7 separate regions of the Homo sapiens genome follow, and all the other regions are linked to region 1. Evidence: fine-mapped expression QTL. A gene starts in region 1. Each other region holds a variant in brackets. All regions are shown on one strand. Distances are between the middles of the regions.

The links.
Region 2: its variant is fine-mapped to the expression of EPB41L4A in spleen (GTEx, PIP 0.99).
Region 3: its variant is fine-mapped to the expression of EPB41L4A in substantia nigra (GTEx, PIP above 0.99). The same link has a PIP of 0.9 or more in spinal cord.
Region 4: its variant is fine-mapped to the expression of EPB41L4A in tibial artery (GTEx, PIP above 0.99).
Region 5: its variant is fine-mapped to the expression of EPB41L4A in whole blood (TOPMed, PIP above 0.99).
Region 6: its variant is fine-mapped to the expression of EPB41L4A in adrenal gland (GTEx, PIP above 0.99). The same link has a PIP of 0.9 or more in atrial appendage.
Region 7: its variant is fine-mapped to the expression of EPB41L4A in whole blood (INTERVAL, PIP above 0.99).

What each region holds. Positions count from the first base shown.
Region 1 is chr5:112,417,580-112,422,029 of GRCh38, reverse strand. It overlaps EPB41L4A (erythrocyte membrane protein band 4.1 like 4A), which reads left to right and starts at 2,753. Exons shown (of 23, transcript NM_022140.5): 1 at 2,753-3,089. The coding sequence starts at 2,991. It overlaps EPB41L4A-DT (EPB41L4A divergent transcript), which reads right to left and starts at 2,447. Exons shown (of 1, transcript NR_027706.1): 1 at 1,052-2,447. RefSeq lists a silencer at 1,999-2,088.
Region 2 is chr5:111,505,699-111,510,148 of GRCh38, reverse strand. STARD4 (StAR related lipid transfer domain containing 4) reads left to right here. Exons shown (of 6, transcript NM_139164.3): 2 at 2,707-2,820; 3 at 3,770-3,819. The coding sequence starts at 2,716. Among named protein-coding and RNA genes, the nearest start is that of STARD4-AS1, 4.3 kb to the left of the region's middle. RefSeq lists an enhancer at 846-965. The variant T/C (reference allele first, on the strand shown) is at 2,527.
Region 3 is chr5:112,474,363-112,478,812 of GRCh38, reverse strand. No RefSeq gene overlaps it. Among named protein-coding and RNA genes, the nearest start is that of EPB41L4A-DT, 57 kb to the right of the region's middle. The variant C/A (reference allele first, on the strand shown) is at 2,265.
Region 4 is chr5:112,282,423-112,286,872 of GRCh38, reverse strand. All of the region lies in intron 2 of EPB41L4A (erythrocyte membrane protein band 4.1 like 4A), which reads left to right. Among named protein-coding and RNA genes, the nearest start is that of SNORA13, 120 kb to the right of the region's middle. The variant C/A (reference allele first, on the strand shown) is at 2,165.
Region 5 is chr5:112,547,949-112,552,398 of GRCh38, reverse strand. No RefSeq gene overlaps it. Among named protein-coding and RNA genes, the nearest start is that of LINC02200, 78 kb to the left of the region's middle. The variant T/C (reference allele first, on the strand shown) is at 1,990.
Region 6 is chr5:112,122,642-112,127,091 of GRCh38, reverse strand. No RefSeq gene overlaps it. Among named protein-coding and RNA genes, the nearest start is that of EPB41L4A-AS1, 36 kb to the left of the region's middle. The variant T/C (reference allele first, on the strand shown) is at 2,333.
Region 7 is chr5:112,499,477-112,503,926 of GRCh38, reverse strand. No RefSeq gene overlaps it. Among named protein-coding and RNA genes, the nearest start is that of EPB41L4A-DT, 82 kb to the right of the region's middle. RefSeq lists an enhancer at 1-307. The variant T/C (reference allele first, on the strand shown) is at 2,633.

The DNA.
Region 1 (4,450 bases):
GCGGTGGCTCACACCTGTAATCCTAGCACTTTGGGAGGCTGAGGCGGGCGGATCATGAGGTCAGGAGTTTGAGACCAGCCTCGCCAGCATGGTGGAACCTTGTCTCTACTAAAAATACAGGGCATGGTGGCGCACTCCTGTAGTCCCAGCTACTTGGGAGGCTGAGGCAGGAGAATTGCTCCAACCCGGCAGGTGGAGGTTGTAGTGAGCCGAGATCGCGCCACTGCACTCTGATAGAGCGCGACTCTGTCTCAAAAAAAAAAAAAAAAAAAAGAAAGATGACAAAGTGCAGGAGGAAACCTTAGGGAGGGATGAATATGTGTACTAGCTTGATTATGGTGGTGGGTTCATGGGTGCACACTTATGTCAAAACTTATCAAATTGTACACTTAAAAATTATGCAGTGAACTGTATGTAAATTATATGCAATAAAGCTATCCTTAGAAACTCTGTGGAATCCTCTTGTCACTAGTAATCTCTAATTTTGTGTTAAATAGATTTTAAATGTTCTTTTCTCCAGTCTCCGATAAAGAAATGGAAAAGAAAATGCTTCACTCAGGAAAGAGTGTCATATGTATGGGACCTTATGGCTTTGTAACTTACCTTATGAGGAGCTGGGAACAGAATCCCTGCCCATCCAAAACCCTCAGCCTTCTCACTGCCACTGGAGGTAAAAAAACAAAAACAAACAACAGCAAAACCAAAAATCAGAAAGCAAAAAAACCAAATCAAAGGGCCAAAAAACAGGTGAGAGCAAAACTCAAAAAAACTGGGAACAGATGATTGCTTGAACCTTTTGTTTTTGCAGCCTCAAGTGTCTCGGTTGGATATGGAGGTAAAGAATGAAAATGTTAAGCCATCTTTCAATCACATTTGGTAACTCCTGTCAGGAATACTGTATTACAGAAAAGAAAAGCCTCTACAAGCAGAAATGCTAAAATCTAGCATAATAAGGTGTCACCTCATAAGGCAGGCAAGACTTTGACAATAAAACAAAGCTGGACACGAAATTTGATCAGAAATTCAAAACCTGAGTCAATTTCACAGAAAATTCAGAAGATAAAATAGTTTTATTCATAGCCTAGGTAAAGTTCAGAAATTTATATTGCACTTTGGCGGTTATGCTGATCCTGTGTTTGGATGGGGTCACAATAGCAGGGAAGGCCGAGGCTTCCTACAGAAGGTCCTTTGTGGCAAATCACTATGAGAGGAAACTCCATCAAAAGTCGCCAATTGTTCATTTCATTTCTACTGTGCTACGGAAGCCTGGTTTTGTTTTAAGGGCTAACGTCCTAGGTTTTAAGCAATTTTTTTTGAGCTTTGGCTACCCAGCTAACAAGCAGTAGAATAGTCAACTCAAAACTACGTCTGATGCCAAAGCTCTAACTCTAAAACTCAATATAGAGTTTTTTTTCTGTGACACCTCCCCTCGTGTCTCCCCTAACTGCGACTCGCATTAACTCGCTGCTGGTTCCCAGCTGGAGAGCACAGATTGCACCTGCTCCGAAGCCCAGCGGGGCTCAGTGTCGTCCGCAGCTCAACCTCGGCTGCCTGTGCACGGACATCGGGACCCACCAGGGGTCACTGCAGCTTCAGAGCTATTGTGCCCCTCAGTCCTGGACGCGGCCGACCGCGCGGAGGGCGTGGGATTGGGACCGCCGAACCGTGGGGTCCGAGCAGCACCGCGTCCTCTTCTCCCCACCCAGCCTCCAGGTCTCTCGGGGGAAGGACGCAGCGAGCGCTGGACTGCCCCGCGGCTTGGGCGCAGTGTGCGGCTTGGCAGCGTGGACTCGCCGGCACCTCGCCGCTGGGACCACGGTCTCTGCCCCGCCCTCCGCCCCCAGCTGATACCCCGCCCAGAAGGGGCTCCCCTGCCGCGGCCAGCGCTGGACTGGGGGGTCCGCTTCGTTCCAGGGCTTTTTGCAGACGCCTGGACCGGGCCCACATGCACCTGGGCTGCTCCCGCCCGGGGCGCCACCACTCGCGCGGCCAAGAGAACTTTCCCCGGAGCCTCTGCGGCCTGGCGCGCCCAGGGCGCACCCCCCGCTCGCCCGTCCGCCGCGTTCCCAGCTGGGGCGTCGCTCCTCCGCCCGCAGGTCCCCGCCTCCCCGCTTTGCTGAATGTCCTGAAGAAGCCGTATTCCGCCGCCGCGGCAGGCATTCCCGGAGGGAGAGCTTGAACTTGGCTACACACGGCCACCCGTAATGAGCTCGGGAGTCCCCGGACGGGAGCCACACCCCGCGACGAGCTGACCTCCCCTCGCTGGTCTGGGTAAGGAGCCTGCTGCCCTTTCCGCCTCTCTTCCGGCTCCTCGGCGCTTGCGGCTGGGGGACGGGGTAGCGGACGGAGCGACGACCTTCGCCTCTGCCCCTGCGCCCATGGTCGGGGCGTCGTGGGTGCTCCTCACACAAAAGAAAAGCCGAGCGCTTCATACTCGGCGGATCTGACCCGGGGCTGCGGGGCGGGGTCGCGGCTGGAAGTGCGCGCCCGCGGGGGACTCCGCAGGCCGATCGGACGCCAGGACGTCGGGGCCGCGCTCAAATCCGTGCGGCAGGAGGGAGGTGCAGCGCTTCCAGGGTTTTCCAAGGCCGGGGAGAGCCTCGAATTCCCATCACTCCTTTTTCTGGTCTCTTGCCCCCAGTGCCAGGAGACTTTTGTCGTCCCCAGGACTGCGGGAGGGGCCCCGCGCCCCCGCCTTCGGAGGAGCTCGAGCCGCAGGATGCGCGGGGACGCGCCACCGCCCTCCGCGCCCAGTTCCGCCGGCGCTTCCCCGGCGGCTCCCGGGCGCTGACTCTCCCGGGCTTTTCCGCCTTTCTCGCTCCCGCCCCGCCGGGCGGTTCGGCGGCCGGTCCCCGGACCCCGCCGGGAGCTGCTCGTCTCACCCTCGCCACGGCGCGGACAATAAATTAATGCATCGCGCTTGAGTGGAGGGGGCGGCTGGGCGCCTCGGTGGTAGCTTTCTCTCCTGGCTGGAGACGACCACAACCGACATGGGCTGTTTCTGCGCTGTTCCGGAAGAATTTTACTGCGAAGTTTTGCTCCTGGATGAATCCAAGTTAACCCTTACCACCCAGCAGCAGGGCATCAAGGTGGGTGCGGCCCGGAGCGCGTTCCGGGGGTTGGCGGCAGGGCGGGTGCGGGGGTCCATCGCTTTGAGGGCTGTCACCGGTGGGTCGAGGGCGGCGGCCGCGACTCTGCGCGGTGGGGAGGAGAGGCCGCTGTCCCCTGCGCGCAGGGAGAGGGTGGACGTACCAGGGTGAGTTAACTTTGAGTTCCTTCATAAAGCAAAGTTGAGTTTGACGTTTCTAAGTTTACTCAGCACACCGGCTCCCAGCAGCACCCCAAAACTCTTCCCCAAACCGGTTTTCTCCAAAAGCCTCTGGGTGCCCCGCAGCTCTCAAAGAGGGGCAGAATGGGTTATACCAGCTGCGTCCCACCAGTGTGGAAGGCATGGTTTCCCTCGACTTTGTTGAAGGCGTTTTCCTTGACAGTGTTATTAGGGAAGTGAACTAGTTCACTCGTTGAAACGCATTAATGGGTCATTGTGATTGTTTTGCGTGGGTTCGTAGTTGGGTAATGCTACGTTTGGACGGAAAATATTTTCCCTTTCTACAGCGACCTGGGTTTATCCTCACATTTAAGTAAACATCTCTCAAAGCGACCCAGTAATAACTTTGCTCCTGTTTGTGGGTCATTAAAATGCAATCACTACATTAACCTAGAGAGCCCAAACAAAAAGGCAGCAGAGCTCGCAGAGATCCTCTTCCTTACATTGGATGAGAAGGTACGTATGTTTGTAGTGACAACCTGACCGACGCGCCTGCGTGCTTGTTTTGCTTTTGCAACAGTGTTAACTACCTAAAGGAGATCTAAATCCGGAGCGTTTTGTTGTTTTGTTTATCTTTCTCTTTCAGTTTTAGATCGCTAAGGCATTTTAGATAAGGCAACAGCTGAGTCTGGTGAAGGGAAACCGCCCCCCCGCCCCCGCTCTGATAGAGCTGGCTTTCTGAGAAATCGAGTTCAGGCTGCCAAGTATCCTCTCTTAGTCGCTTCATCTCAGAAGTTAATCATAATGGGGTAGGCCCTGGGCATTTCCTTTTGTGAATCAGTTTTTACATAGTTTTATGCACACTAGGATAACTATTCCTGGCTAAAAGTTTCAGCGTTAATGTTGCCATTCTTAGTGTACAGAATTCCAGTTTCATAGGTGTAATTCTTTTGCGGGAGAAAGGAGCAAAAATAATCAGTTAAAGCTACAAGATTGTTAACCCTTTCCTTTAGGAGGTTGTTTTGAATATTGTTTCCCCAGTAATTATACTGAGCAAAATTCAGTTCGATTCTCATTCGGTATTTCCTTTCAAGACCAATAAAATAGACTCTTTTCGGGGAGGGTGTACATTTTGTATTTTTAACTTTTCTTTATGTTCCAAAATATTTCTCCTCTCACCCG
Region 2 (4,450 bases), 910 kb after region 1:
AGACTTAACTGTTTGGTTAAATACATTGCTGGACATATTTAATCAGAGAGAGCTTTCTGATTTTGTACTTCTTTCTCTTCCTTTCCTACCTCCCACTGCACCACTCTTAAAAAGGCTATTAATAGAATTTTTTAATGTTTTAGTTTTTGTTGTTGTTATTTCTGTTAAAGCTTAAGGGTGGAATAAGTCAATTTGAGAGTAAAATCTGAATTCCATCTGTTTCTGTAGTTCTAGGACCTGGTATATAATAGATGCTTGATAAATATTTAATAGTAGTCCTTCTTGAGAAATGGTGTTTCATTATGGTAAAGGAAGTTTTAGTTATTCAGAAGCTCTAGGATTGGCGTAAATGGGCATACTTTAGATATCTTGAGGTCTTCCATAAGTGAGAATGGTAGCTTATTGTCTATACATTTTTCCATTTTTTATTCACTGTGTTCCTACTGAGTGCTAGACGTAAGGAGAATTAATATTGAACAAGCCAGATTTCCTACCCCCCAAAGATTTTACAGTTAAACGGGAGAAGATAACAAGTGAATAATTACAGTACAGAGTTGCTGTCAGAAAATATTGGAGGGGGAACTAACCCAGGTTCAGGGGAATCCAGGAAAGATAAGTGGAAATTAGGTAATGAAAATATGCCACATTATAAAAGGGCCTGTAAGCTATAGTAAGGAGCTTGAACTTTATACTGATCAGTATGAATTACTAAGTCAAGTACCTTAAAGTTGCAGATTCTCATCTCTTCTAGGTAGCTAGCTTTCTAGGTAACTTTCCGTGCACTGGATTTGCCCAGTGATAATGTTTGCTTATGATAATAATAACTTTCTGTTTCACCTTTGATTTCTATCAAAAAGTTTTGCATAAATACTCTTATCTGCCAACCACAGGAACCTAGCAGGTGACCTTTGGGTTTAAAGAATATGTTTAATCATAGTGATCCCTGTAATAGATAAATTAAATCTCTTTTACAAGCCTTCTGCAAGAACTTCTGCTTGTTTGTGGCATACTCTTGAATAAAGTTATTGAACTGGCTATCAAGTTGACAGCCTCTTGAATGGAAATTAGGTATATTCTTGACTGAGAGACTTTTTGAATGAGCTCATCAACTTTTCATCCGTGGATTGGATCTATACTTATTATATATTTTGCATCACTTACATAGATCCTAAAAGTTATATTGAATTTTCTTTGTATACTTTCCCATGTTTCTACATAATTTTAGTATTTATAAATTTTAATGGCTTATATGCTCTAATTAGTGGTATTTAAATATTGGCTACAACCTTAATTTATTTCTGTCACTTTAATTTTTAGATCAGTTAGTTCTGATCTCTGGCTAGACAACAGAATAATTAGTGAGACTATTTTAAAGGACCTACATTTCTGAGGCCCATTCCAGAACAAAGCCACTGAATTAGACTATTTGGCACTGGGCCCTAAAATCTAACACCTAAAAGCAGCGACAACTAGTACAAAGCATAAAAAGGTGATTCTGATGTGTGCATCCATAGTTGACAACTGCAGCCTTATTCCCATAGAGGGTGATTTCATTTAGATTAGGAGATTTCATTTAGATGTTTTCTTGACCTCCTTTCCAGCAATTTGATGGTTCTGTAATGGGCAACTTTACCCCTAAAACTCTTTTCTTCTTTAGCCTTTTACTGAAGATGGGAGGAATAGAGATAGAATAGTGAAAAGTAGGAATTATGCTAAGAAATTGGTGCCCTGGCACCAAAAGAAGACAAAGACCAAGTAATTCTTGTTTTGAGACAATAACATATCAACAAAATAAGGGCCTACTATGTGCCAGGCAGTGTTCTAGGTGGTGGAGTTATAGTGGTGAATAAGAAAAGGACCTCTATGCTATTAGTTAGGAATGAGGTGGTCAAAGAGTAGAATCATACACCTATAAATAAGTTATTATATTGTCAGATAATGATAAGCACTATGAAGAAAATAACGATGTAATAGTAACTTAAGAAGGCTTTATGAAGGATAGGAGGTTTAAACTGAAATTGGCATTACATTGTTATTAGTGATGCTAAGATTTGGGATCTAGCCGTATCAAAGACCACAAGTCAGCGATAAGCTAGCCTGTTTGAGGGACAGAAAGAAAACCAGTGTAGAATACTGTAGACAATGAGGTATGATGGTGTTAAAAGGAACCTATTCTTATTAAGGGCAATTCCAAGCCTTTTGACTTGAGAACTTGGGCTCAATTGCCATTTTAATAGTAAATTGTTAAAATGAGGAATACTGTGACAAATTGAGGGAAGCCAGGGGAGGCAAGAGATTCCCTTTAGGCTTGAAGCTTTAAGTAGGCTTCTGGATCTGGGATTTTTGAGCTCATTGAAACAAAGAGGACTGGAGGTAAATGTTTGAGAGTTAACAGCATATCTATATATGAGATACAATTGCTTCCCCTTCCTCCTGTCTTCTCTTCTACTTTCTGTATGAGTGATTTTAATTGTAAAAAATATGTAATTCTCACCTCTGGCTATGGGTTATTCATCTTGGGAGCAA[T/C]TAGAAAAAAACTATGCCCGGGTCCTACTCTCAGAGATTATGATTAGTTGATTTGGGGTGAGGGTAGCTATCTTTTATAGCTCTGGTAGGTTATTATATTGTGAAACCAGATTCGAGACCCACTGGCCTATTGCCTCAAACTGTGGTATTTGCTGATGCTAATCTTGGTCTCCATAACAGAGAGAAGTAATGGAAGGCCTGTCTGATGTTGCTTCTTTTGCAACTAAACTTAAAAACACTCTCATCCAGTACCATAGCATTGAAGAAGATAAGTGGCGAGTTGCTAAGAAAACGGTAAATTAGTTCAATTACTTATATTTGGGGTATATCTTCTATCTAATGAATTGGTTGATGACTTTTAAAATTAAATGGAACAATATGGACAAAGACCATACTTTGGATGGATATGCAAGAAAAATAATTGAGCTAATAAAGTTGATAGTCTAATGTCACACAGAGGAAGAAATGCATCAGTGGTAATCCTATACTGCTTTCATTAGCTCTTTGGATATTAGACAAGAGAATAGGCTCATGGCAACTAGAACCTAAAGAATGGCCTCTTAAGTCAGCAAATAAAATGTATCATTATTAATTTAAGAAAGTGTAGTACTTGAGAGTTTGGAATAGTTTCAGGTATATCAAAAAGCCTATGAAGGTAGCTAGTTAGTATTCCTTTTTACTAATGTGACTTGCCCAAACTATTACATAGGTGACTTGAGTGTTGCTAGAACTAATTCTAGAACCCAGGACACTTCTAGTTAAGTGCTCTAGCTATTCTGATATTCAGAATTACTTGGGAAATGATGAGGAAAAAATGTAGGGACAAATTCATGTTAACACTGTCGTAATAAATGTGAATTGTTTAATTTTTTAAAAGTTATGAACAATGTCAGAATGAAATAGTGTTCCTAGTGTTAGAGTCTGAATGCATCAGTAATGGTAAATAGATAAGATTGGACTAAGATAGTGCCATCATTGAATCTTACAGTGTTTGGATATCATTAAATACTACTGAAAATATTCTTTGGAGGTCTGTAATTTAAGTACAATGTGAAGAACTTTAGGATACAGAAGAAATTCAAATACAAATCCTTTTATGGTATAGATGACTTTTATGTATTCTGAAAATGTACTGGTTTTATTTTAATGCAAAGACAAATTCTATAGACTTATAAAATTATCAGTTTTGTGTCTAGGGTTCCACCTATGCAATTATTACCATATAATGTTTTTATTTTTCTAGAAAGATGTAACTGTTTGGAGAAAACCCTCAGAAGAATTTAATGGATATCTGTAAGTAACTTTTTATAGACTTACACAGCTCTTAAGACATTTCAAAACTTATATCCATTGTCACTAAGTAGTCATTGCTAGTAAGATTTAGCTTTTTAAGAGTTCTTTAACTTTTTTTTTTTTTTTTTTTTTTTTTGAGACAGAGTCTCACTCTGTCACCCAGGCTGGAGTGCGGTGGCACAATCTCGGCTCGCTGCAACCTCTGCCTCCCGGGTTCAAGCGATTCTTCTGCCTCAGCCTCCCGAGTAGCTCGGATTACAGGCACCTGCCACTGTGCCTGGCTAACTTTTTTTGTAGTTTTTAGTACAGATGGGGTTTCACCATCTTGGCTAGGCTGGTCTTGAGCTCCTGACATCCCGCCTTGGTTTCCCAAATTGCTGGGATTGCAGGCATGAGCCACCACACCTGGCGATTTTTTTTTAACTTTCCGGAAAGCAAATTGGGCTTATGAATTCAGAGCCTTAAAAATGTCCGTGTCCTTTGTAGACTGAGTTGGTGGTGAGGAGGTCATAAATAATGATATAAAATGACTGCTAAAATCTGAATTTCTTAGCATTGTATACATGACCCTTCTAATATTCTACATTTACTCAGTGCTGTAGAACATTTTATCTTAGGAACTTATCTTGAA
Region 3 (4,450 bases), 57 kb before region 1:
CTACTGGGGGAGCATATCAAGCACATAGAGTGATGCACGTGTCTGAGGGCAGAGTCCTCAAAGAACCCCCAAAAGAGAAAGCCAGCTTTGGCACATCTGCCATGCAGGGGTCAGTAACACCAGGTTACAACAGCACCCATTGAGTCAAACCTATTTACCCCCTTACCTGTCCTCTCCCTGCCAACCTCCTCTAACCCTGGAGGAGCCAAAAGGGTGCACAGTGAGTGAGAGAAGAAAAGTGGAGGAGCCACATGGAGGCGTTGTGAAGATACGGAGGAGACCACCCCCTTCCCCACTCCTGGTCTGTGGAGGGCGGGGGAGAGACTCCAGAGAGATCAAAGTTTTCATTGTTATCACACTGGACTTCTTAATACTTTGCCTGAAAAGAAAACCTTTTAACATCTGAAAGGGACTGGAAATCTAGGAGAGATGCCTAAGCTGTCAGCCAGAGGCAGAGCAGTGAGATCTGACAGAAGATACCTAATGATCAAAGTGAAGAAAAATGAAGGTGCTTCTCGTCTGCATCCCACAGAGTCCAGCTCATTACCAAACCTGTCATATCTAGGATCCTGGGGACCCACTGGGAGGAGAAGTTGTTAACGTGCATGGATTTCAAGTAAATGCCACCCGAGAAAATTTCAATCGAGGTTTACATTGCTACATTTCACTATTAAAATTACAGCACGGGGCCACGGGCATCAAATGTGGGTGTTTCGCAGTTTCTATCGATGACAATCAAAATTATTTTCCCAGATCAGTGATTTATTCCTTTGAGGGAAAAACACCTGATTACTTATTTTTTATAGTTAGAATTCTATTGTAATAATTTTCCATGTTATTAATATTTCATATTCTTTTGAGTGCAGCATTTAATGACATTTTAAGCATACCATATAAAAAGATATTTAGGTTACTGACAGTTTTTCTCACTTATAAATAATGAAGCAAGTAGATAGAACTTTTTCAAATGTTTTCAAGCTTTTTTTGTTATATTCTAAGAACCAATTGAACTTCTTAAAGCCTCATAATTATTTCCTTTTGAATTCACGATAATTCATTGTATAATTGGTTTTTATTAATTACAACTTAAAGTCATTTTTTTGCCCTGTGAATTTCAAGGTCATACTGGTTAGAAAAGACAGTTTTAGTCCAACGCTGATCACTTTTTAAAAAAATCATGAGCTCATAAATTAACAATTCATGGTTTTAGCAATAAATTATTTCACCTTGAATGACTCGTGTTTATGTTCAAACAATGCTAGTTCATTTTGCTCCTTAAATTTGTACTATATATGCTACATTAGGAGTAAATTGAACCAGGTGCTGTGACTTGCACCTGTAATTTCAGCTACTTAGGGGGTTGAGGCACAATGATTTCTTGAGGCCAGAAGTTTGAGACCAGCCTGGGCAACATAGTGTGATCCCTATCTCTAAAAAAACTTAAAATAAATTTTGAAAAATTAGCTGGGTGTGGTGGCAAGCACCTGTAGTCCCAGCTAGTTGGGAGGTTGAGGCAGGAGGATCTCTTGAGTCCAGGAGTTCAAGACTGCACTGAGCTATGAGCTCTGATGGTACCACTGCACTGCACAGCAGCCTGGACAACAGAGCAAGACCTTGTCTCTTAACAAAAAGTGTTAAAGGCAATTGGAGATAGGGTCTCACTCTGTCACCCAGGCTGGAGTGCAGTGGCACAATCATGGCTCACTGCAGCCTCAACCTCCTGGGCTCAAGTGATGCTCCCATCTCAGCCTCCTAAGTAGCTGGGACTACAGGCACACACCACCATGCCTAGCTAATTAAAATTTTTTTTTGTACAAATGGAGTCTTGCTATGTTGCCCAGGCTGGTCTTGAACTTCTGGCCTCAAGCAATCCTCCCATTTGGGCCTCCCAAAGTGCTAAAACTCTTTGTCGATTCCAAATTCTTGCTTGGTAGAAGAGCTATTTTGTTATTGTTTTTAGCTTGTGAAATTTTCTTATAACATGCTTATATTACCAGAGTCAGAGGTGTTTTAAGAATTCACAGTAATTTTAATTCATTGGTAAGACATTTTGGTGGAAATAAAGTAGTTTATACTAAATATCAGAAAGTATGAGTGGTGAAGTTATCATTTATTAAAATTCTCTAATATTTAATAATAATGTTAAGTACATTATATGAGCAGAATGAAACATGTTCCAAAATATTTTGCTTGTAAGTGTAGTTTTATAAAATAAATAGGTTTCCATTTTCAGAGAAGAGAAAGAGAACAGCAGAAATAATAAA[C/A]AATGACTGGTTTAACCCAATGGTACTAACCCAACGTTTAGTATTTAACCCAATGTAAATACTAAACAATGTCCACGCATAAGGCTAACGTTTAAGGACCTGTGCTTGGCTTTGTTATTTTTAATATATATGGGATAACATGGAGAAAGGTAGTATAATTTTAAAGTTTAATTTGAATTTTGGCAATATGTCTTTCAGCAAAGAAAACTGGACTCTTTTTCCCCCAGTTGCCTTTGGCAATAAACCTCACAGTGACTGATCTTCATGACCTCATCCTGGAATTTGGCTTGAGTGACCAGTTTTAATCAACCTGAAAATAATGCCTCTTTGTCTATTGGAAAACAAATGGCGACAGATTGCCTCTTTCTGCTATAACCATAGCTCATCTGACTAGCTTTGCCCATGAAAGTCTTAGAAAAGTATGAGATACAATTTGAGGAGTTAGTTGTGTGTGAAAATCTTAATGAACTCAGTCACCTTGTAATTTAATGGCTAAGAAGCAGCTGTCTGAACAGATTAGCCATTAAATCTCAGATGTAGGGTTGTTTGACCTTAATTTGCATATTTTGAAAACCAGATTTTGCAGACTGTAGTTGGCTTCTGAGTCGAGCAAGGAGTGTGAGCACTGCCTCTGCTCTGTTCAGTTACAAGGCTATGAAGCCAAATTTGAGCCAGCCACTAGCAGACAAACAAAAGGTGGCACTGCTTTCCTTTGTTTTTTTTTTATAGTTTTAGTACATTAAAACTGCTGTATATGATTAGCATTAGTTAACTAGCCACTTTTGTTCCCGAGAAACTAAATCAACATTCACCTGGGGATACCTGTACTGGGTAGGCCTGTGATGGGCAATAAGAAAAGTCACTTATGTTGTTCTCTCAGGAAACTCTGAGCAGGTAAAAGGTTGGCAGAGGCTACCGGTGCACTTCCAATATTAGTGATGGAGTCCTGCTCAGAATACACACCATGCTTCTCAGGCTTTCCTGCAACCGGGCGAAGCACAGTTCTGGCCCATGAGATATTTGCAGAAATGATGTGTGTAACTTCTGGAATGTACCATGATGAGGAATGGACATACCCCACCACCACCACCACCCCACCCCACTTCCCCTTCCCTATTACTTAGCAGCTGCAATCTATACCTGGTGGTAAGTGGTAATGAGTGACCCTCAACCACTCCAATGAGCACAATGCCTTAGAGATAGGTGAGTAACAATATAGAAGGGTCCTGAGTCCCTCACACCACAGACCCATTATTCCAGTTCTGTAATGCTTATGCTTGGGCAGTCACATAACAGAAAAACAAACTCTTGTTTTATTGAAGTCACAGGTACTTTGGGTCTTGGTCTTAATAGCAGAATCTACTTCTTAATTAATTAATTGTGTATAATGACAACTGAGATGAGTGGTTAAAGTCCTAAAGCATTCAGATTCAAACTTCAGAAAATGATGTGCAGAAAAAAACAAAATCAAACCAACAATATATCTTAGGGTGGATTGAACTAATTTGCCATTGTGCCCCCCAACCCCAGCCCCCATTTTCAGCTTCTTTTCTTTTCTTTTTTTTTTCTTTTTTTTTTTTTTTAAGACAGAGTCTCCCTCTGATGCCCAGGCTGGAGTGCAGTGGCACAACCTCAGCTGACTGCAACCTCCACCTCCTGGGTTCAAGCGATTCTTCTGCCTCAGCCTCCCAAGTAGCTGGCACTATACGCGTCCGTCCGCCACCATGCCCGGCTAATTTTTGTATTTTTAGTAGAGACAGAGTTTCACCATATTGGCTGGGCTGGTCTCAAACTTCTGACCTTGTGATCCGCCTGCCTTGGCCTCCCAAAGTGCTGGGATTACAGGCGTGAGCCACCACACCCAGCCTTTCAGCCTCTTTTCTAAAGCTTGCACTCAAGAGTCACTGGAAAGCTGCCACATACCACATACGCAGTCCTCTCTGTTTCAGTTTGTTCGAAGCATCTGTGTCACACAGCTCAGTAAAGGTGACCTTGCCGGTCAGTCTTTTACAAGATCTAGACCTGGGGTTGGGGATGGGAGCACATAGTTCAGGTTCTTCTTTATGACTAGTTAATTAATTGTGAAAACGGTGAGTTGGAAACTCAGGTCCAAGATTTATGAGGTGCCAAAAAAAAAAAAAAAAAGTGGGCGGCGGGGGGATTTGAGGATGAATTGGAGAGAAAGT
Region 4 (4,450 bases), 140 kb after region 1:
TTTTTTCTCATCCAGAGATTTATTTCAAAGCACAGAAGTGAAATGGACAGGTATGGGAGTCAAAGTTTTTTGGTTTTGTTTTGAAGATGGGAGAAATAAAGCCACCATTCTTCCAACAATGATTCTGTCAAAAGGGAAACCTTCATGATGCAGGAAAGAGAACAGAAGGTTGCTGGAACCATGTTCCTGAATAGATGAGAAAGGGATGAGCCTAAGTGGAACATGGACAGTTCCTCCACAGCAACAGGAGAGAAGGCAGAACACAAGCTCAGATGCAAGCAGGTTGGTCGACGGGGCCAGGATGCATACGCATTTCTCTTATGATTGTTTCCATTTTCAGTGAAGTAATGAAGATCTTCAGCTGAGAGTGAGGAAGGGAAAGGAGTTGTTGGAAGTTTAAGGACAGAGGAGAAAGTGTCAAGAATTATTAAGGAGAATGACGGAATAAAATGTAGGATTCTGCGTGATACCAAGGGTTCCCTTGGGTTATTGCTAATGAATGTAAAGCAAGCCCACCTATGGTTGTGCAATGTGAGCCTCCAGTTATGTTCAGCTCCTTGGGTGCTAGCATGGAGAATGCGGGGAATTGGAGTTACCCATGGGTGTTTTTTTTTCCTGTAGATATTATGGAAGCAAGGATGTGCAAGGAAATTGAGGACACTTGCAAGTGAATGATTATAATGAATAGTGAGGGAAATGACATTGGTTGGGGGCATCAGCGAGGGACAATGAAAAGGTAGTAGGGTCAATGAATTGGGTGTCTTGGTGGAGTCAGAATATTAAAGTGAGTTGGGAGAAGAGTATTAGTTGAGAGTAAGAATCTTGAAATTTAAGTTGTGCATTACTTCTCAGACAATATTTTAGAAAGTAGCTTGGCCCGAGTGTAAGATGGAATGGCTTCAGTTCGTTGGAGCTGCTGTTCTGTACTTTTGGGCAAGTTGTTTACTCAGTGTTTCAGTTTCCTCATTTATAAAATGGTAATTATAATAGTTCTTCCTAGAGTTATTAAGAGGATTAAAAGAGTAAACACATGTAGAGTCCTCAACAGTGCCTGTCACATTGCAAACATTTAATAAATGCTAGCTGTTATTATTGCATTTCTGTAACCTTAGAGTGGTGTCAGGGTCCATGGATGAGAAATGAGGAATATTCCCAGGGCCAGTGACACTTTATGAGAAGCCACATGGTCCATCAGAGATTTCTTGAAATTCACTTTTGCTGAAAAACGGGGCCAGTTGTAATTATCTCTCCCTCCCTGTAGATCACTCCAGTGACAGGCCCTTGTTTTTGTCGCCACTGCAAGATAGCTCTATTATGGTGGTTTTACTTGAGGTCCTAAGGCTTCTGTGACTCATATGAAGGAGCAAATTAAAGCCATGTCCTCTTGATGTTGCTTAGAGGGCCATAGATCTGTTTACAGGGTCAGTGGGAAAAGCACAAATAGCCATAACCTAAGTCCTGGATTCCTTGAAACATATATGTGAATTATGTTGAGTCCTAGAACTCCCCAGGAGTGACCTGTTATATCACTTTTGAGATCTTTGTGGCTCTGTTGTCAATGGTACATGACCAACTCTGTTTTTACTCTCTTAGATCAAGAGGTTGTTTTGCTATATTAATGAAAACTGTGTGTGCTTTTAAGTCCTTTTATTTGGCCTACAGGAAACTTTATTAAATGTCAATGTAACATTCTTAAGTTCTCCAAAAGAGAGTCAGCATTGGACTCTGGGTGAAATAAGATGCAGCAAACTCTCATTATTTCATGGTGTCCTTTCTTTTTAAAAATTTTTTAGGGTTTATTCTACTATTAGAACTCTAGGAGACTCTGAAAGAACAGTTGACAAATGAAAGGTTGGACCCCGAATTTAATATATATCTTTTGAAGATTAGGATATTGATTGGCTGGGCACTATTAGAGTTTCAGAACCTAATTCTGAGACTGTTACCAAGGAAATTGATGAAATTGAGAAGTTATCAGCCAAGGTGGATGAAAGCAGCCAAGGGCATTTAGCCAGGACTGTCAGAGAGTAAGAAGGGTCTGTCATTGCTCTCCGGGTTACATCAGTGCTGTGATTAAGATTGACAGGCCTGAAGTGGTAAGGCTGTCTAACTGCTTTACCTCTTCTACTCTGGCAAAGGGGCAGAGTCCGAGAGGACTGTCACC[C/A]TGACTCCTCAGTGATGGAGTGTTTAGGATACAGTATGTTAGGAGTGGACTGTGCGACATCAGAGAGCAGGGTCTGTTTGGGTTCATTGTTACCTTCCTACAAAATGGGATCTCATCCAGCTTGTCAGCATATACAGACTGCATAGTATACATTTGAAATAGGAGAGAGAGGGGAGTGGGGAAGGGGAAAGTGTTTGAGTGATTATCCTAGAGAATGGACAGCTTGAATGTTGAGAGGGAATGAGAGATAGGGCTATTTCTCCTCGTGACCATCTGGCTATGCAAGAGGCAGCACACCAGGGTACAATTCAGAGAAACCATTCTCTGAATCAACATTGGACCCAGTGTGAAATAAGATGCAGCACAGCTCCAATTATTGCATGCTGTCCTTTATTTAAAAAAATTTAGGGTTTATTCTATTAGAACTCTAGGAGACTCCAAAAGAACAGTCTCTTAGGGCACCACACTGCATGATTCTCAGCTCTCTGCTCCTCTTTCCCCTCACGTGGGGCAGGTGGAAAGACTGAATGGACTACTTCCCTTTCTGGAAGTTCTCCATGAATATTGATTGCTTAGCTGAGTATTTGTTAGCTGTTAGGCAACACTGACTTCAATAGGGTGTTCAATTGTAAAGGACTTAGAGTATTACATTCTGTGTTATTACATGGAAATTTACTCACTTGCTTTAAGAGCAGTTGAGCTGATAGACATGTACTTTATACAGATTTAAGGCTCTGTTATCTCCCATTTATGTATTTTGAGAAAGTTTTTTTGAACATGCTATTTAACGATTTTTTTAGTAAAGCCATTGTATACTCACCCTGCAGTTAATTTTCCTTGTACATGATTTTATTATCTCATATGTATTCATCTTATATAAGTAATTATTGTCTCACCACATTGTATTGTAATTACATGGCTGTGTGTCTCCTGCTGGGCTGTGAGTGCGAGGTTAGTCACGGGTCTCATTCAACTTTGTGTTCCCATACTAAGGACAGTGTCTGACATGTCATGTAAAGAACATGTATAGTGGATATCCATAAGTGATGAATGAATGAATGATATCCCAGTTTTAGAGTCTACCTCTAGAATATTGGCACTCCATGACCAGTATTCTGGATGTATTCCTTAAAACAGGGATATTGTGTTCATTGGCAATTTTTTGTGCCCTTTTTTCTCTTAAACTATAGAGTAACAGGCTGCTGTGTTTCACTCTGATCTTCCATGTGCTCTGTTTGATTGCTTGTTGATAATGAATGGTGACAAGTGCCATCATAGCATGGCTGCTTTGGTTCCAAGGTCACATCTTTCCCTTGGTTGAACGTAAGTGGGTTTTACATTTCAAGATCTTGGCTTCTGAAACCTGGTGACTTGTGTTTATTATTTATGTTCTTGGGCATTTATCATTGTCTGACCTCTGTAACCCCTGGTTTCCATTTTGATCAAATGAGATTTGTGTGTGGCCGGCTCTAGGGTGATGCTTAGCATAGCAAATGTGCAGTGAGTTGATTGAATAGCCTTTGACTGAGTCTTGCTGCTGCTGCTTCGTGCTGCAGAATTGTAATTTCTAACTTTTCTTGAAACTGTTATTTTACTTTTTTCACCTCTCAAATTTAATCACTCTCAAGGAAAGAGATTTATTTTAAAATAGAACAGATTATCATTAATGTAAAATTTTTGATAGATTAACCAGTTTTTCCCATTATATGTAGTTAAAATTTTTTCTTCCTATTTTCTTTAGCTGGCTTTAGTGACTGAAAAGCATTCTGGAGACAAGGAAACAAAGACAAAACAAAACAAAATGAATCAAAAAATCTGAAAAAAAATTACAAAGGTTGTCTTTTGGGATGATGATGATGATAGGAGGAGAAATTTAAAACTCTGATTTCTGCCCCTTACTAGTTTCAGAACAAGATTAGACAGACAGTAATAAGACCAAAGCCTCCTTTTTTCCCTTCTTGCCACAAGCACATATTGACACTTCATGTGTAAGTGTAGCGTAGGGCGTGAAATTAAATCCCAATGTTACATGTGCCTTGACACCTGGAGAAACTGGGAGAGCCTCTAATAACGCATCCATAAGCCCTCTCCCTTACTGTGCTCTAGGGAATACGGTCCCCTAACCAACCAGCTCTCCAAGACCCCAGCAGGCTGACATCTTGATTTTAGCCTTGTGAAATTTGAAGCAAAGAAAGACACTAACTTTCAGCACTCTGAGATAATAAACAGGTGTTGTTTTAGCCTCTAAGCTTGTGGTAATTTGTTACGGCAGCAGTGGAAACCGAA
Region 5 (4,450 bases), 130 kb before region 1:
CCACTGCTTTCTATCGAACTTAGAATACAATTCATCTCCTTCCTTGGCCAACCAGTCCTTATGTGGTCTGAACCCGGATGGTCTTCCAGCCTCATTTTATCCCACCTTTCCCTCCCCTCTCCATGCTCTGGCTACACTGGCTTCTTTCTATTCTGAAACACCCAAAGCTTGTCCTTACCCAGGGCTGCTGCACTTGCTCTTCGCTCTGCCTGGACCACTCTTCCCCCAGCCCTTGGTCTGGCTGGCTCCTTCTCATCTGGGCTTCAGGTCACATGCCAGCTTCTCTAAGGCCTTTCCTGGCACTGTTCTCTTCCCCTCATGCCCTATTTCTATTCCATTACGGTGTTATTTTTCATTGAAATTATTACCTAAAATTATTTTCGTTTACTTGGTTAGTATCTGTCTCCTCTACTTCAGTGCAAGCTCCACAAAAGCAAGGACCTTGTCTCTTGTTCACCAGAGAATCCCCGCTGCCTGAAATAAACGTTTAATCAATGAATGTCCACACCCAGAGCGGGAGGGAATTCTAACAGTTGTGAGGCTGCTGATGTTCCTTCCAGTGAATGCTATGAAAAACTCAAGTCTATATACATTTAATCCTCCCCTAATTTGGATCTGCTTTTAAGAATGGCCTTTGGCCGTTTGTAACATCTGGATGCCAATATTAAAATAAAACTGGTGAAGAAGAAGGCTGAGATTTGATGGTTCCATGTATTTCCTTAAATATTATGGTTCTGTAAAATGGCTTTGATTGGTGACACAAAAGGCAAGGTTGCCCCCTAGTGTTTAGATGTGTAGATCTGTGTCACCAGCAATACCTTTTAAAAAACTGTGTGTATAGAAAGCCACACTTCCACAGCCTGCTGTAATATAGACCAGAATTTACCAAGGAAGCACAATTTCCCACAAAGTATCTCCTAAGAGACTCCAAATGGATACTTTCCATTCTCATGGGCTTCTGCCAAAAGTTGAGCTACTGTCTTTGTTAGCTACTAAAGAAATCTGAAACAACCAAGAGAGCTGTCTAGCTGAGTTTCACCAGATAGCACATTCTCCAGACTGTTTTCTTAAATGTCACCTTCCTTTCCCAGGCAAAGTAGGCTGATTATAAAGTAAGTAAAATCAATGTTAAAGAAAATAGCAACCCACCATCTCAACTGTTTTCCCCTTGGCCACAGAGGAATTTATCCTTAAAGTTCAGGAAGACATAAACCATTCAGAATCTTAAGTGGATGCAACCAAGCACAAGATTTCCCTGCACTGAAAAATCTTGGTAGTTTTAGGTGAGTATTTTTCATTCCTGAGCCATGCTGAAGACTGGTGAGACAAAGGAAAGCTGTAAAAAGTGGCTGGATGAGGGTGGCACCAGGGGAAACCATTTAATAAAGAGCCTGGGTTATTGGCTCCTACAGTATCACTCTGGGAAACTAGGTTATTAGAAATGATGGAAAATGGGTGGTGAGGTGAGCTGGTGGCTGGGAATAACCATGGCAACCAAACTATCCATTTTCTTATTTCGCTTTCCTTGAGACTAGAAATAGATCAAGTGTAGGTCACTGCAAACAAGTCCAGTGATGGTTTACATCTCCTGCAACAGCTTTTGCTGGCCTTTTTTGTGAGCATGTGAAGAAATGCTACCCTACTTTTGAAAAAATGTCATATATCTCTTGTCCCGACCACCTAGTTTGTGTTCTGTATATTGTGTGAATATGGTGTTCTATTTTTACTTTAAAATATGTTTTTTAAGAGTAAATAAGAAATAGTTGTGGAATTACAAAGCCAGAAGTAGAATGCTTTTTGGAGACCACCTACTCAATGCAGGAATTTTTTTTTGTCATGCTGAGAGATGGGCTCTATTTTAATCTCTTCAGTGACAAGGAACTCACTACTTCATGATATAACAATTGCATTGTTAAATTGTTGGAAATTCTTTATTATTTTTATTTATTCACACAGCTGATATTTATTTAGCACCTACTCTATGCCAGG[T/C]ACTGTGCTGGGCACTTTGGATCTAGTGGTTAACAATATGAACTCTGAACATGAAGTCCCTGAACATAAAGAAGTTATAGTCTTCTCCTTGTAACTTTCAGGTGAATATGTGCAATTGAAACTAATGAACAGTATTTTCATGGTACTGCTACTGTTTCAGCAACAATAGTTTTAGTCTTTTGTTTCTCTGATCAAGAATCACATTTTAAGGAGAGAGTATCCGATTGGCTTGAGTCCCATGCCCAGCCCTTGGCTGGAGGTGGCAGCAGCACTTCTTGATGTCCCTCCAGAATGTATCCCATGTGTCCAACCAGAGAACAGGCAGTTTTTGTTAAAAGTACACACAGGGTCATCCTAGGTTTTTCCTGGGGTTTAATGTCAAGACTAAATATCTCTATATCTATTTTCTAAAGGCAAAAATATTTAACTATCTCAGTGTTCCAGAAGCTCCTCATGTTTTCTTGGAGATTACTACAGTATCTCCAATCATGTCTGCAGGCTACTTGAGTGTTTTGGAAGATAATTCACTTGGACCCTGTGTCATATATTCTCTTAAAGCTGCAGGTGCACTCGCTCTTGCATTTACATGACCTACCTTGTTTCCACCCAGTCTAATTTGAATACCAGTATCATTGCTAGAAGAGGTCAGAGAACAATGTAAAAGATCTGCCTTCATCTTGCAGAACTGTGCAGTGTTTAAAAGAACAAGGGCTTTGGAATGAGAAATACCCGGGTTTAAGTCCTATTCCTGTGTTGTACTGGTTGTGTGGCCTTGGTCCAGTTACTCATCTGTTCTATGTGTCTGTTTTCTCATCTGAAAAATGGATATAATCTCATAGGGTTTATGGAAGATCAACTGTACAGTCAAGAGACAGAAATCACACTGATTATTTGAACAGGGAGATTTCATGTAAAGATTTTTTAATCAAGTACTCAAGAAATGAAAAGGCAGAAAGGAAACACTGAGAAGGCAGAAATCGTAGAAGCAGTTACTGCTCTAGAACTGGGTGAATACATGAAAGAGTTTGGAGTTGTTAAAGTTTAGAAGCTTGAAGGAGGTGGTGCCCCGCAGAGCTGAAACTGAAACCTCTGAGACCGGGTTGAGGGTCATTGCATTGTACTATTGCCTCAGGATTTTGAAGGTGGCCCCTGGTAGGGAATAGGTAGGACCGTGACCTTCAAGGAGAGGTGCTAACTGGTTGGTGCTGGGGTCTCTAGGGGGTATGATGATGCTGGTTCTAAGGGGAGTGATGATGCTAGTTTATCATGCCCCAGTATTTAGGGGTAATGCAAATATCAATTCCTGAATAAATGTTGGAATGAATTCCTAAGTGTCTGAGACCTCAGTGGTTGTCTCTTGTTTTAATTGCTGGAATTTTCCATTAACTTTATTACTCATGGAAGTACTAAGATACATCCCAGAAAATCCCCAGCATCTGAGACATGGTCCTCCCTACTTTCATTTTGCAGTAGCAACTGTTAACTTAAAAATCACAAGATGTATAAATTTAGAACGGGAGAAGAGACTATTTCATCTAAAGTGTTACAGCCTATAAGATGGCCATCCTTCAGACTGGGAAGTACAGCCTCTGGCTGGAGCCCAGAAACAGGCACTTGGAAGGAGGAGGGGTTGGGGTATAAGTTTTATACTGAACAGGTTGACTAAACATACATATTCAACAGGTTACAGGAGGAGCTGTGAATATTCATGAAGGTGGCCCTGATGCATACGTCTTGAACAAACATGCAAGTAATATAAAACCCATGTTCACTTTGGGGTGGAGATGCAACATTTAAGTGTATTATAATGAGGCCCTGTACTTCAAAAGATCTTTTCAAGACATGAAGGGATGCAAGTGCATAATCTTTGTAAACTGGCCAGAACCAGTCCAGGGTTGGTGGTTTTCTTATCTGGGGAAAGTTATTGAAGTCAGTCTCTTGTCCAGTGAAAACTGTAGTTATGGCTGGTGGAACAGTCCAGTGAGTCAGCGTCTGTGAGCTGGATGAGTTGTGACTGTTTTAATCGTGCTTATCTTGAGGCCAGTGCTTGTTTAGTTGCTGGAGAAAAAGAAAAATTTTGTGGCAGTTAGAACATAGATTATTCTTCAAGTGTAGGGATGCGTGACTTAACTCTTGCCTGACATGGCCTTAGGTCCTTTTTATATGTTGGTATCTTATTGTCACCAAGAGTCTGTTGTGTTAAACTTATGATCTTTATTTTAACATTTAGGCTGGTCACTTGTTCTGTCTAAGCCATAAAAGGAGGTCTAATGAGGTAGTCTGACCTGCTGTCCCATGATGGTCAGGAACTCAGTTTTAAGCTTTTTCTGGGGTCCCCTCAGCTACAAGAGAGTCTGTTCTCAGTAGAGAGGCCAGGGTTGGCGGGGGCAGGGTAGGATTTTATTTTTAGTTTACACAACACAATTTGTTCTTGGTATTCAGGATCAATCATCCCAGCCAG
Region 6 (4,450 bases), 290 kb after region 1:
CAAGGATAAAGCATAGAATAGGTAGACGGTGAGGAAGGCACTAACTTCTGGGAGTCTGAATCTTGGTGTAAAGTTGTTTGTCCAGTAGTCCTAGGCCCTTCACTCTTCTGGAGTATTCACAGAGGACCTGAGACTTTTGAGGGTAGCTAACCAGAAGACACACTATTTAGATGAAGAGTTTTACCTAAGTACAATAAGAAGTTTCCAACGATTATTCATGAAGTAAGAGTGTGTTGTGCCTTGCTCTCTTTTATTGTCTCTCTTGTTTCCTGCTTAGGGTAATTATTATTTTTAAAAATAATTTAATTTTTTAATTTTTAATTTTTATAGGTACATAGTAGGTGTATATATTTCTGGGGTACATGATGTATTTTGGTACAGGCATACAATGTGTAATAATCACATCAGGGTATAGGGTAATTATTTGAAGACTGTGTAGAACAAGAGTAAAATTAGTTTCCCTAAAAGATCACTGGAGTTTTCTCCTATGCTTTTTGCATCACAAGTGAGATTAACTGGAAAATGACAGAATTGAAGATGTGTTTCACTTGTTTTAAGCAAAGGCCAGCTTTAATATAATGCATTTGTGGGTCCTTCATTCTGAAAATAATTATGAGCTGATTTATGTATTACAGAATCTAATTGTTGCTTTAAAGCATTAAATTATTCCTACAGAGCTCCTGAAAAAAATTGTGAAAGATATAAAAACAAGAATATTTAACATTTTATATATTATCAGATGGCTATTAGTATTTTAGCAAGTCCTATATTGTTATTGGATTTAGAAATATATGTTATTATTGTTTTGAAATTGGCAGTAACTTAGACTGAAGCATTTTATTAGAAAAATCAAGAATGAAAGTGTCTTTTCTATGAGAGCGCTGGTTAGCTTTGCATTTGTTTTGGAGATTTAATAGTTGCCATATGTTAGACCTGTTAAATGAATGATGTAATTTAGGCTGCCTGTTGTCCTGCCAACTGCTTCATGCTGCCTCCTCACTTTTAGTGAGCATTACTCCAACATGTGCATATATCACCCAGCAGTAGCTTCTTATACAATCCTGTTAGTCCTTGGGTTCTTAACCCCATCCATCATCTATATAGGCTCTATCTCCTTCCCTCCAGAACCTCGGCTAATGAAAAACAATGGTAGATCTTGGCAAAGAGTGTGCTTGGAGGATAATAATCAACCTAATATTCTGGCTAATGGATAGAAAACCAATGATAAGGTTGATGCTTTAGGACAAAATCACAATGGATGATTAAGAGAATTCAAATTTCTCTACAACATGAATGACAGATAAATGATTTTTTTTGTATGAAACATTAGATGGTACATTTCTTTATTTTTGTGAGCAGGATGATACAATAAGAATGACTACAGCAAAAATAAAACTCATATGTTGTGTGCCCCTTGCTTGTGCCACCTCTAATGACTCTTACCTAAGAAGATGAAAAGTTCCACCTGAATATCTCAGATATTTATGTAGCTATAACCTATATATATATATTTTCCACTTTATAAATGAGGAAGCAGAGGGCCAGAATTAATCAATGACTTGTTCCAGGTTGTCATTTATATCAGTGTTAATGATAAGGGAATTGCTACGTATTTCATTTTTTAAAAAATTATGTTAGGAAAAATCTATTATCAATGATTCAATAAATCGAATTGAAATGGATTTGTCAGCCTAGGTTTCACAGTGTTACAATCATCTACAATTTTTACCATCATTTTCCAAAGAGTAAGTCAGTTAGTGAGACTTTTTCAGCATTATAAGGAGATCCTAGGATTTGCCACTGAGAAACTTCAAAGATCTTAAAATGTCTTACATATTTAAATGTTAGGACTACTTATTTTAACTCAATGCCCTTATATACTTTCAATATGGCAGATTTCTTTTTCTACTTTATATTTACAAGTTCTCTTATTTTTTTTTCCTTTATGCCTAGGGTCAGAGAGATAATTTTCTTTAATTTACACCTTTTACATGGTTCAGCAGGACCTAAAATTAATCCTTTCCTTTATGGGGAGTGCATAACAGTTGTACTCTTATGTAACCTGTTGGCTCCCACGTGTCATCTTAATGAACTTCCCCATTTCCTACTGTTTTACAATCTGTGTTTTTGGCATCTTGAAACTTCCTGCACTCTTCTTCCTTTGGTGGGTGTATTAGTTTGCGAGGGCTGCCGTAATAAAGTCACAAACTGAGTAGATCAAACAACAGCAATTAATTTTCTCACAGTTCTGGAGGTTAGAAGTCCAAGATAAGGTACCTGTAGGGTTGATTCTTTCTGAGGGCCACGAGGGAACAATCTGTTCCGGGCCTCT[T/C]GCCTTGGCTCGTAGATGACCGTTTTTCCCTCGTATCTTTACACTGTCTTCCCTCTCTGTCAGTGTCCAAATTTCCTCTTCTTACAACACCAGTCATATTGGATTAGCGCCCAATCTAATGACCTTATTATAGCTTAATTATCCCCGAAAAGACCCTATCTCCAAATATGGTAACATTCCGAGGTACTGGGGATTAGGATTTCAATATATAAATTTTAGGGGATGGGGACACAATTCATAACAAGTAGGAAAGAAGAGCACAGAAATATTTAATGTCACATGGCATTTCTGGATTATTGAGATTTCATGCAAAAATATAAATCTTAATTATCAGGCAAGAAACATATGGATAATCAGTTACGTAGTGATCCTAGTCTTCTGATGGTCAAAATGCTAACCAGGGAGGACATATCCCCTCCTCCATGTGAAGAAAACAATGCGATCTGAGTTTGCAAATGTGTGGAGAGTGGGGATCTGAAAACAGAGGTGGGAAAACAGATCCTTCAGAGCCTTCCTTGCACACCAAGTGGTAATGAAAGTTAGATATTTTAAATCACGTAGCCATGTTTTTCATTCAGGTTATAACACATATACAAGCCGACACCCTTCCCAAAATTTCGGCATGGTAGTATATTGAATATATGCTGTTTCATGGGAACATATTTTTCTACTGTTTTGAAGCCTTCAAATGTAGGAAAAGATCTCTAAATAATTAAAAAAGATTGTACAATAATTCCAAAATTTTCAAATGGATCAGAACCTATTTCTCTGGAGGCATTATTAAACACAGAACTACATAAAGAATCAAGTATTACTGTTAATAGGGGACAGATGAGATTAGAAGTTCTGTAAATACCTTCTGACTTTTAGTGACATTGTTTCCTCCTCTGAATCAGAAAATGCGATTGTGCTAGAGATCTGAATGTTTTTCATTATTATCTAGTGAAAATGACTTAGGAGAAGGCTGGTGGGTGGTGAAATTCTAGAGATGGAAATTAGCTTGGTGGTCAATCCTGGGGATTATTGTCAGATCAAATCTAGGTCTGTCTGCTGTGATCATTGGGCTTCCAGGTTAATTCTGGGTACAATCCCAAAAGTAAGGTTTAGTTTGGGGGAGGAGAGAGTGGAAGGAAGATGCCCTCGCCTTTTTCTCCCTGATAATTGACCTGGCCCCTTAAAGTGCTGCTCTGGATTAAGGACGCCAGACCAAGATCTGTTAGGGGCTAGACCTTCTTCCTACACAGTGGTCACATTCAGAAGAGGGCAAATGAAGGGAAATGGGGGAACCAATACCTCCACTCAACTGTGTCTAGTAAAGGTTCTCGAAAAGGCTTGTATGTCACATTCAAGCTTAACATGCTCCTTTTGAAAGCACACATTTCTGTGTGCTGCCCATTTTGCTTCAATTAGTCATGGATAAGGAGGATTACATTATATTGGAGTGTTTTTAGCAGGGTTTTAGCAGGAGTTTCTTACATTAATCTGCTTGCAGTTCTTTAGAGTCACACTTTTGAGTCACACTTAAATTAGGGTGAGTCTACCCTAGAAACAATGGGGATTACTCTCAGGTGGTGGTGTTTTTTTGTTGTCGTTGTTCCTAAGCAGAAATTTCTGGAGCTATTATAAAGAACAGTGCTCACTAATATGCTTAAGTCTAGAAATTGCTGTTTCATTAATAAGTAGAAACTGGACAGCTTATCCCTTTTCTCAGAAAGTATTAGTGATTTCCTGTGGGAGGCAAGAAGTAGGAGAAAAACGCTTCCTACGCTCTTCCCTAGTTTGTATGTTATTTTCTGTGGCCTAAAGAGACATGCTTCCTCTTCTCTTTTCCAAATTTATCACTTTCTCTCTTATATTCAATCGCAGCACACCCACGGGGACTAATTCTCACCTCTGTGATTTTTGTTGTACATTTCATCATTTCTACAATTCTTCCAAATTGTAGAAATAATCTGGGGGGACTCCAAAAAGTGAATGTATATGTATTCTTAGAGCTGTCATCTCACTTGCTTTTAAGTTACAACACCAAGCGGAATTTTAGTCAACCTTCCTAAGTCAGTTAAATACAAAGTTTGGATGTAGTCCAAGGCTTATAGTTTCTGTTATTTATTGAGTTTT
Region 7 (4,450 bases), 82 kb before region 1:
GTAATGGTGGACACCCCTCCCCCAACTAAGCTCAAGCATCTCAGGTCAACTTCAGACTGCTGTGCTGGCAGCAAGAATTTCAAGTCAACAGATCTTAGCTTGCTGGGCTCTGTCGGGGTGGGATCCGCTGAGCTAGACCACTTGGCTCAATGGCTTCAGCCCCTTTCAGGGGAGTGAACGGTTCTGTCTTGCTGGTGTTCCAGGCGCCACTGTGGTGTGAAAAAAAAAACTCTTGCAGCTAGCTTCGTGTCTGCCCAAATGACCACCGAGTTTTGTGCTTGAAATCCAGGGCCCTGGTGATGTAGGCATCCAAGGGAATCTCCTGGTCTGCAGTTGAGAAGACTGTGGGAAAAGCGTAGTATCTGGGCTGGAGTCCACTGTTCCTCATGGCACAGTCCCTCATGGCTTCCCTTGGCTAGGGGAGGGAGCTCCCCGACCCCTTGTGCTTCCCGCGTGAGGTGATGCCCCTCCCTCCTTTGGCTTGCCCTCTGTGGGCTGCACCCGCTGTCTAACCAGTTCCAGTGAGATGAACCAGGTACCTCTGTTGGAAATGCAGAAATTACCTGCCTTCTTTATTGATCTCACTGGGAGTTGTAGACTGGAGCTGCTCGTATTTGGCCATCTTGCCAGCAATCTCCCAGGTGTACCCTTTTTAAATCTTTTATTCCAAATTTTAACTGCACCTTTTCTATATTTGAACATGTTTAGATATACTGATTATCATGCATGTCCGTGTGAAGAGACCACCAAACAGGCTTTGTGTGAGCAACAAGGCTTTTTATTTCACTGGAGTGCAGGTGGGCTGAGTGTGAAAAGAGAGTCAGCAAAGGGAGATGGGGTGGGGCCGTTTTATAGAATTTGGGTAAGTAGTGGAAAATTATAGTCAAAGGGGGTTGTTCTCTTGTAGGCAGGGGTGGGGGTCACAAGGTGCTCAGTGGGGGAGCTTCTGAGCCAGGAGAAGGAATTTCACAAGGTTAATTGCTCAGTTAAGGTGGAGCAGAAACAAATCACAATGGTGGAATGTCATCAGTTAAGGCAGGAACTGGCCATTTTCACTTCTTTTGTGATTCTTCAGTTACTTTGGGCCATCTGGATGTATAAGTGCAGGTCACAGGCAATATGATGGCTTAGCTTAGGCTCAGAACCCTGACATGGATATTTACCATTTTGTTACAATTGCCTACAGTATTCAGTAATGTAACATGCTATACAGTTTGTAGCCTAGGAACAATAGGCTATACCATGTAGCTTAGGTGTGTAGTAGACTGTCCCATCTAGGTTAGTATAAGTACACTCTGATGTTCCTATGGTGGTGAAATTGCCTAGCGATGCATTTCTCAGAATGTGTCCCCACTGTTAAGTGATGCATGACTGTATAACTATATAATAGAATATTACTTAGCTATAAAAAGGAATGAAATACTAATACATGATACAACATGAATGAACTTTGAAAATATTATTCTAAAAGAATTAAACCAGACACAAAAATGCCATATATTGTATAATTACATTCATATGAAATGTCCAAAATAGGCAAATCCATAAGAGACAGAAAACAAATTGGTGGGAGAGATGGGGGAGAAAAGAATGGGGCATGAATTCTAGGTATGGCATTTTTTGGGGGGATGATGAAATGTTCTGATAGTGGTGATGGCGGCACAACTTTATAAACATAGGAACGACCTCTACATTTTATACTTTAAAAGGGTAAATTTTGTCATTTGCGAATCATATCTCCATAAATGTAAAATAAAATAAGCTGCAGACTAGAGCACACTGAAATATCTTACTATTAATATAAAAAAAATTTGGTTTTTAAATATGACCCTATGAAAGGGAAGAGCAGTAAAGTGAGAAGAAAAAAATAGCATTCAGTGAGTATCTCCTATGTGTCAGGTATTATGCTGGGTGCTGAAGGTGTAGAGGAAATAATTTGTAGCCCATGCCCTTAAGGGGCTCAATCTAGAAAGTGTGAAAAGGATGAATGATGATACAAATCAAGAAATGCTGTCAAAGAAGGCACTGTTAAGTGAATGAAAAGACAAGACACAATCTAGAAGAAATATTACAAATGATGTACCTGATAAAGAACTTAAATGCAGGATAGATAAAGAACTCTCAAAATTCAAAAATAAGAAAACAAACAACCCAATTTAAAAATGGGCAAAAGATTTGAACACATACTTCAACAAAGAAGATATACAGATGGTAAATAAGCCCATAAAAAGAGGTTAACTTTGTTAGCTCACTGAGGAAATGCAAATTAAAAGCAATGTGATACCACTACAAACCTGTTAGAGTGGCTAAAATTAAAAAGACTGGCTATGGTAGACTGAAGAATGGCTCCTGCCCAAAGATAGCCAAGTCCTAATTCATAGATTCTGACTATTATCTTATATGCCCCCCTCTCCCCAAAAAAATAGGAGGGGAAGGTCTTTGGAGATGTGATTAAGTGTGAGATTACCTGGATGGACCTGAAATGCTACCATAATGTTGTAAGAAAAACTGGGTTCTTGTCACACAACCAGGAAAGAATAGGGACACAGACACTTTGAGGGGTGAGGTGTTATGTAATTTATTGGGCAAAAAGGAAAAAGACTCTCAACAAAGCGATAGGAGTTCCTATTAA[T/C]AGGGCCCCATCTCATAGACTAAATTCCAGGTTACCACACAGGAACAGCAGGGGCCAGAGTCCTCCCCATTGCAAATGGCAGGAACTTCCCAAAGCCCCACTCTGTCCTCCCAGTGCACAGGTCAGTGGGAGATTCTCCAGGGTTAGCAGTCTGGTTTTTCAGCCTTCAGGCTGTTTTAGACTTGAAGGCAGGGTTTTGCCAGGGAATCCTTGGCTGCCTCCTGTCTATATCAACAAGTGTTTTCAAGAGAGAGGAAGAGGCAGATTTCACCTGCAGAAGAGGCAACGTGACTACAGAAGCCGAGATTGGAGTGATGCAGCCACAAACCAAGGAATATGGCAACCACCAGAAGTCAGAAGAGCCAAGGAACAGATTCTCCCTTAGAACTGCCAGAGGGAGTGTGGCCCCACTCATGCTTTGATTTCAGATACTGATTTTGGACCTCAGGTCTCTAGAACTGTGAGAGAATATATTTCTATTCTTTTAAGCCACCAAATTGATGGTAGTTTGTTACACCATCCATAGGAGCTAACACATGGATCACCCCAAATGTTAGCAAGAAGGTGAAGGAATTGGTACTCTCATATCCTGCTGACAGAAATACAAAATAAAGTGGTATGACCACTTGGGAAAATAAGGGTAGTTTCTTAAAAAGTTAAACATAATATCTATCAGATGATTCAGCCATCTCAATCCTACACATTTACCCAAGGAAAATGAAAGAATATGTTCATAAAAAGACTTGTACATGAATATTCACAGCATATAGTTAAACTGGAAATATTTTTCAAGGGGTGAATGCAAAACCAAATAGTCATATATCCATAAAATGGATTACTGCTAAAAAATATGAAGAAATGAACTATCAATATATAGTACAATGTGGATGAGTCTCAAAATAATTATGCTTAGTGAAATAAGCCAGGAAAAAAGAGTACATTACTGTATAATTCCATTTATCTAAAATCCTAGAAAATGCAAACTAATCTATAGTGACATAAAGAAGATCACTGGTGGCCTGTGCAGGAATGTGGGGCTAAGGAGCAGGAGGTGATGATGAATATGTTTGTGATCATGATTACCGTGATGGTTTCACAGGTCTATACATATGTCACACAAATTGAATATGTATACATATTGAATCCTGTAGTTTAAATATGTGTAATTTATTGGACATTGATTATGTATCAATACAACTATTAAAAAATAAGTGCTGTCTAAAAGCCATGCCAGGAAGCTATGGCAACATGGTAGTGTCCTCAGGAAACCTGATGGGACAGAGGTCTGGGACTTGATTCTTTAGCCCAGTTGTCTTGCCACTCTCATTCTAGAAAGGGAGACTGGCTTAAACCAGAGTGTGAGGAAACAGGATCATGCTCATAGCACTGGTCTGATAGTTTTAGTCATCCTGGGGTACTTTTATTCCACTTACTTACTGGCCTTTTAAAGTAAGTTCCAGGCATCCACCAGTATTTGCAGAGAAGTGATCTAGAGAGAAAAACAGCACAGGTAATTTGATGCCCAAGCTGGAGTGATATAAGCACAAAACTATAAGGTAGGGGCAGGTAGTTTGGAGGCCACAGGGTACAGCAGTAGAGAAGGTAGAGGAAGGTCTAAATGGCCCAGAAGCCATCTCCCTCTCCATGGGAGTTGGTCTGTCCTCTCCTTGATAGGATGGGACAGGGAATCAAAGTCCCAGGTGCCTTCCAGCAGTATTCAAGGAGAGCTGGGACTGGGAGTCTGCTGGCCATATGGAAATAAAACCAGTGGAGAGCCATGGTCTCCAAAGGTTGTTTGGCATATGCCAGAAATACACA